2 linked regions of the Homo sapiens genome follow. The protein of the gene in region 1 purifies or fractionates together with the protein of each later gene. This does not show direct contact. Each region holds a gene or a part of one and is shown on either strand. Other genes may lie near its edges.

What was found. The genes of interacting proteins can lie anywhere in the genome.
Region 2: the proteins of SENP7 (region 1) and AHDC1 purify together in Homo sapiens (affinity purification with mass spectrometry; one large-scale study listed by BioGRID and IntAct). This does not show direct contact.

What each region holds. Positions count from the first base shown.
Region 1 is NC_000003.12:101,503,213-101,506,712, forward strand, and holds part of SENP7 (sentrin-specific protease 7), read right to left. Parts: intron 1-3,500. UniProt on the Homo sapiens protein: Protease that acts as a positive regulator of the cGAS-STING pathway by catalyzing desumoylation of CGAS. Desumoylation of CGAS promotes DNA-binding activity of CGAS, subsequent oligomerization and activation.
Region 2 is NC_000001.11:27,548,645-27,552,144, reverse strand, and holds part of AHDC1 (transcription factor Gibbin), read left to right. Parts: 5' UTR 1-29; coding exon 30-3,500. UniProt on the Homo sapiens protein: Transcription factor required for the proper patterning of the epidermis, which plays a key role in early epithelial morphogenesis. Directly binds promoter and enhancer regions and acts by maintaining local enhancer-promoter chromatin architecture.

The sequences.
Region 1 (3,500 bases):
ATTAAACAGCCTTTAGAATGGGTAAAAGTAAAAAGATTGACAACACCAAATATTGGTGAGAGACTGGAACTCATATACTCTTGCTAAGAGTGTAAATGAGTACATCTGCTTCACCAGCATCTACTGAAGTTAGACACCTGCCTATGCAATGTCCAACAATTACACTTTTAGATAAATAACCAACAGAAATAAGAATATTCAGGTATTTTTGTTCTTAATATCCAAAAACTGGAAACAACCCAAATATCCATCAAGTATGGATAAACATATTCATATAATGGAAAACTGTATAGCAATAAAAGATAATGAATTACTGCTACGCACAATATGGATACATTTCTCAGGCATGCTCAAAGGAAACCAGATGCAGAAGAGTATATGATTCTATTTCTCAGAAATTCAAGAAGAGTTAAAATAAACCTATGGTAACACTAGTTAAAACAGTGATGGGGGCCAGGCATGGTGGCACATGCCTGTAATCCCAGCAGTTTGGGAGGCTGAGGTGGGTAGATCGCTTGAGCTCAGGAGTTTGAGAACAGCCTGGGCAAAAGGGTGAAACCCCGTCTGCATAAAAAAGTACAAAAATTAGCTGAGTGTGGTGGTGTGCACCTGCACTCCCAGCTACTCAGTAGGCTGAGGTGGGAAGATCACTTGAACCAGGCAGTTGAGGCTGCAGTGAGCCATGATGGCACCACTGCACTCCAGCCTGGGCAACAGAGCAAGACACTGTCTCAAATTAAAAAAAAAAAAAGTCACTGAACTATACACTAAAGATATGTGTACTGTATGGTACTTAAAATCAGAAATAATAATAATAACTAATGAAATATAGACTACCCAGAAATCTATATTGCTGAAATGATTTCTTCTAAGTTCATAATACACAGCATTAGTTTCACTACATGCACTTGCTGAGAAACCATGTAATGTTTTCCTGATCTAAAAAATTATTTTTGGGCCAGGCGCGGTGGCTGATGCCTGTAATCCCAGCACTAATGGGAGGCCGAGGTGGTTGGATCACTTGAGGTCAGGAGTTCGAGACCAGCCTGGTCAACATGGGGAAACCCGTCTCTATTAAAAATACAAAAAAAAAAAAATTAGCTGGGTGTAGTGGCAGGTGCCTATAATCCCAGCTACTCAGGAGGCTGAGACAGGAAAATCGCTCAAACCCAGGAGGCAGAGGTTGCAGTGAGCCAAGATCACACCATTGCACTCCATCCTAGGCAACGAGGGCAAAATTCCATCTCAAAAAAAAAAAAAAATTATTTTCACCTCTACACTTAAGCTTTTGATAACTTCAAATAATTTAAATAAACTAGTACTCAAGTTGACTACCAAAAATAAAGAATTTTTTAAATAAGTGATAAGAAAGTATCCTGTAGAAATTCATTTTCTAGTCAATTTTAAATTTAACAAAACACATATCTACATATACACAATGGAATACTATTCCGGAATGAAAAAGGAATGAACTCACGTCTTTTACAGTAACACAGAACTGGAGACCTTCATCTTCAGTGAAACAACTCAGATTAGAAGCTCACACCTATAATCCCAACACTTTGGGAGGCCAAGGCAGGATGACTGCTTGAGCCCAGGAGTTTGGGACCAGCCTGCACCACATGGTGAGACCCTGTCTCTAAAAATATTTATTTGAATTAGCTAGGTACAGTGACACCACCTGTGGTCTCAGCTGCTTGGGAGGCTGAGGTGGGAAAATCGCTTGAGCCCAGGAGGTCAAGGCTGCAGTGAGGCATGTGGAGAATCGCTTGAGCCCAGGAGGTCGAGGCTGCAGTGGGCCGTTTTTGCACCACTGCACTCCAGTCTGGACGACAGAGCGAAACCATTTCAAAAAGAAAAAGAAAAAAGAAAAAAAAAGAACTCAGAAAGTCAAATACCACATATTCTCACTATAAGTAGGGGCTAAATAATGTGTATACACATGGACATAGAGTGTGGAATAACAGTCATTGAAGACTTGGAAGGCTAGGAGCAGTGCAGTGAGGGATAAGAAATTACTTAATGGGTACAATGTACACTATTCAGGTGATGATTACACTAAAAGCCCAGATTTCACCACCACACAATATACCCATATAACAAAGCTGTACTTGTAACCCTTAAATTTATACAAATAAAAAAGTACATGTCATTTTAAAAGGAATGTCAGTTTCTTAAATTTTAATTTACAAATTTATATCCCAAAAATGTCTCACTGGGTTAAAAGTGCTTCCATCCTGTTTTGTAGTATGTTCCCCTATTTCCTTTCATTAATGCTACTGTGAATTCCCAAATATTTATGTTTTTTTCTTCTTGGCCAACTTTGTCTAATAAAAAAATTTACAATTTTTTTATAGCTGACTTGCTCCATCTTATACCAGGTTAGCTCTGGAGTGTTTAAATAAGCATATGATGTGCCTCGACTTGAGACTGTATGGTATAGTTACCATGCTCAAGAGTACATATTTTAAAGCTAGACAACCTAAATTTGTATCTCGGCTTACTAGTTGTGACTTCTCTGAGTCTCAGTTTCTCATCTGTAAAATGGCGGAGAATATCTGCCTTTTTAATCGTTCAGATTAAAGCATGATAGTCCATATTAAGGCATTTAGCATTATGACTAACACATAGTTAGTGCAAAAGAAATGGTAACTATAACATTTTATAGTCAAGTATCTCCCTTTAAAAGACTGTAGTATATTAGCATTAGCATATAGGAAAATCTCTCCAATTACTCTCATTCTAAATATATGAGTCAAAAAACTAAAAGCATAACTTTTCCCACTCATTCACTTATTTATTCCATAATTTTTTTTTTTTTTTTTTGAGACGGAGTCTTGCTCTGTCACCCACGCTGGAGTGCAGTGGCACGATCTCGGCTCACTGCAACCTCCACCTCCCAGGTTCAAGCGATTCTCCCGCTTCAGCCTCCCCAGTACCTGGGACTACAGGCAGGAAGCACCATGCCTGGCTAATTTTTTATGTTTAGTAGAGAGAGAGTTTCACCATATTGGCCAGGCTGGTCTCGAACTCCTGAGCTCAAGTGATCTGCCCACCTTGGCCTCCCAAAGTGCTGGGATTACAGGCATGGGCCACAGCACCCAGCCTATTTATTTGACATAATAGTAATTATCATTGCCTGGAATTATGCTAAGTGCTTTACACAAATTATTTTCCTTAATCCTTATATCATGAAATCAATAATGTATAATCTCCATCTTATAGATTAAGAAATTAAGATTTGAGGAATCCAAATAACTTGCCCAACGTTACCATAGTGATCCATCACCGGTCATATTCCAGAGATGGTACTCTAAACCAGTACACTCTAGGCATACTGGATGCTATGGGGAAATAAAATTAATGACAGTCCCTGTCACAGTGTTAATAGTATAGAAGTAGACATTAGACAACTCAGCAAGCTAGAATATATGATGGAATCTGATAATTATCATATAAGAGGCATAAAGACCAACAGAAGTGCAGAAACAGGCATAAAT
Region 2 (3,500 bases), on another chromosome or scaffold:
CCCGGCGGCCTGCGGAGGACAAGGTCAGGATGCGTGTGAAGCCCCAGGGCCTGGTGGTGACTTCCAGTGCCGTGTGCAGCTCTCCTGACTACCTCCGGGAACCCAAGTACTACCCCGGCGGCCCCCCCACCCCCCGGCCCCTGCTTCCCACCCGGCCCCCTGCCAGCCCACCTGACAAGGCCTTCTCCACCCACGCCTTCTCCGAGAACCCACGCCCACCCCCACGCCGGGACCCCAGCACCCGGCGCCCACCAGTCCTTGCCAAGGGGGACGACCCGCTGCCCCCACGGGCAGCCCGTCCTGTCTCACAGGCCCGCTGCCCCACACCGGTCGGAGACGGCAGCAGCTCCCGACGCTGCTGGGACAACGGGCGGGTGAACCTGCGACCAGTGGTGCAGCTGATTGACATCATGAAGGACCTGACACGCCTCTCCCAGGACCTGCAGCACAGTGGTGTACACCTGGACTGTGGTGGGCTCCGACTGAGCCGCCCGCCTGCACCGCCACCCGGCGACCTACAGTACAGCTTCTTCTCCTCACCCAGTTTGGCCAACAGCATCCGTAGCCCTGAGGAGCGGGCCACCCCACACGCCAAGTCGGAGCGGCCCAGCCATCCCCTCTACGAGCCTGAGCCTGAGCCTAGGGACAGTCCCCAGCCTGGCCAAGGCCATAGTCCCGGAGCCACGGCTGCGGCCACGGGTCTGCCCCCAGAGCCTGAGCCAGACAGCACTGATTACTCAGAACTTGCTGACGCCGACATCCTTAGTGAGCTGGCCTCCCTCACTTGCCCAGAGGCCCAGCTGCTAGAGGCCCAGGCCCTCGAGCCACCATCGCCCGAGCCGGAGCCTCAGCTCCTGGACCCCCAGCCCCGCTTCCTGGACCCGCAGGCACTAGAGCCGCTCGGGGAAGCTCTGGAGCTGCCACCCCTGCAACCTCTTGCTGATCCTCTGGGGCTGCCGGGCCTGGCTCTCCAGGCCCTGGACACCCTGCCTGACTCCTTGGAGTCGCAGCTGCTTGACCCCCAGGCACTCGACCCCCTGCCCAAGCTGCTTGACGTCCCAGGTCGCCGTCTGGAGCCCCAGCAGCCCCTGGGGCACTGCCCACTGGCCGAGCCCTTGCGCCTGGACTTGTGCTCACCGCACGGCCCCCCCGGGCCTGAGGGTCACCCCAAGTACGCCTTGCGGCGCACTGATAGGCCAAAGATCCTGTGTCGCCGGCGGAAAGCCGGACGGGGACGCAAGGCAGACGCCGGACCCGAGGGCCGCCTACTGCCCCTGCCTATGCCCACGGGGCTGGTGGCTGCCCTGGCCGAACCCCCACCACCACCGCCTCCTCCACCCCCTGCCCTGCCAGGCCCAGGCCCGGTCTCAGTCCCAGAGTTGAAGCCGGAATCTTCCCAGACCCCAGTGGTCTCTACCCGCAAAGGCAAGTGCCGGGGCGTGCGGCGCATGGTGGTGAAGATGGCCAAGATCCCCGTATCGCTGGGGCGGCGGAACAAGACCACATACAAAGTGTCTTCCTTGAGCAGCAGCCTGAGCGTGGAGGGCAAGGAGCTGGGCCTGCGCGTGTCGGCTGAGCCCACCCCGCTGCTGAAGATGAAGAACAATGGGCGGAACGTGGTAGTGGTCTTCCCACCCGGTGAGATGCCCATTATTCTCAAACGTAAGCGCGGCCGCCCTCCTAAGAACCTGCTGCTGGGTCCCGGCAAGCCCAAGGAGCCAGCTGTGGTGGCGGCCGAGGCAGCCACTGTGGCAGCGGCCACCATGGCCATGCCAGAGGTAAAAAAACGACGGCGGCGGAAGCAGAAGCTGGCATCTCCCCAGCCATCCTATGCAGCAGACGCCAACGACAGCAAGGCCGAGTACTCAGACGTCCTGGCCAAGCTGGCCTTCCTGAACCGCCAGAGCCAGTGCGCTGGACGGTGCTCACCGCCCCGCTGCTGGACACCCAGTGAGCCGGAGTCGGTGCACCAGGCCCCCGACACCCAGAGCATCTCCCACTTCCTGCATCGTGTGCAGGGCTTCCGGCGGCGTGGGGGCAAAGCAGGCGGTTTTGGTGGCCGGGGTGGGGGCCATGCGGCCAAGTCAGCCCGATGCTCCTTCAGTGACTTCTTTGAGGGCATCGGCAAGAAAAAGAAGGTGGTGGCCGTGGCAGCCGCTGGGGTCGGGGGCCCGGGCCTTACTGAGTTGGGGCACCCACGCAAACGGGGCCGGGGGGAGGTAGACGCTGTGACTGGGAAGCCAAAGCGCAAGAGACGGTCCCGGAAGAATGGGACTCTGTTCCCAGAGCAGGTGCCCAGTGGCCCAGGCTTTGGGGAGGCAGGTGCTGAGTGGGCCGGGGATAAGGGTGGTGGCTGGGCCCCTCACCATGGGCACCCAGGCGGACAAGCTGGCCGAAACTGTGGGTTTCAGGGGACCGAGGCCCGGGCCTTTGCCTCCACTGGGCTGGAGAGTGGAGCCTCAGGCCGTGGCAGCTACTACAGCACGGGTGCACCCTCAGGCCAGACCGAGCTCAGCCAGGAGCGCCAAAACCTCTTCACCGGCTACTTTCGCTCGCTGCTCGATTCGGATGACTCCTCCGATCTCTTGGACTTTGCCCTCTCAGCCTCTCGCCCAGAGTCCCGGAAGGCATCGGGCACCTATGCAGGGCCACCCACCAGTGCCCTGCCTGCCCAGCGGGGCCTGGCCACCTTCCCTAGCCGGGGAGCCAAGGCCAGCCCAGTGGCAGTGGGTAGCAGCGGGGCTGGGGCGGACCCCTCCTTTCAGCCTGTCCTGTCCGCGCGCCAGACCTTCCCACCAGGACGAGCAGCAAGCTATGGGCTAACTCCAGCCGCTTCAGACTGCCGGGCAGCCGAGACCTTCCCCAAGCTGGTGCCCCCGCCCTCAGCCATGGCCCGCTCACCTACCACCCACCCGCCTGCCAACACCTACCTGCCCCAGTACGGCGGCTATGGGGCCGGACAAAGCGTATTCGCCCCAACTAAGCCCTTTACAGGCCAGGACTGCGCTAACAGCAAGGACTGCAGCTTCGCCTATGGCAGTGGCAACAGCCTCCCTGCCTCACCCAGCAGCGCCCACAGCGCCGGCTATGCCCCACCGCCTACCGGGGGCCCCTGCCTGCCACCAAGCAAGGCCTCCTTCTTCAGCAGCTCTGAGGGGGCCCCCTTCTCTGGTTCAGCCCCCACGCCCCTGCGCTGTGACAGCCGGGCCAGCACAGTCTCGCCCGGTGGCTACATGGTACCCAAGGGCACCACAGCCTCTGCCACCTCTGCAGCCTCTGCCGCCTCCTCCTCCTCCTCCTCCTTCCAGCCCTCGCCCGAGAACTGTCGGCAGTTTGCGGGGGCTTCTCAGTGGCCTTTCCGGCAGGGCTATGGAGGCCTGGACTGGGCCTCAGAGGCCTTTAGTCAGCTCTACAATCCCAGTTTTGACTGCCACGTCAGCGAGCCCAACGTGATCCTGGACATCTCCAACTACACACCGCAGAAGGTGAAGCAGCAGACG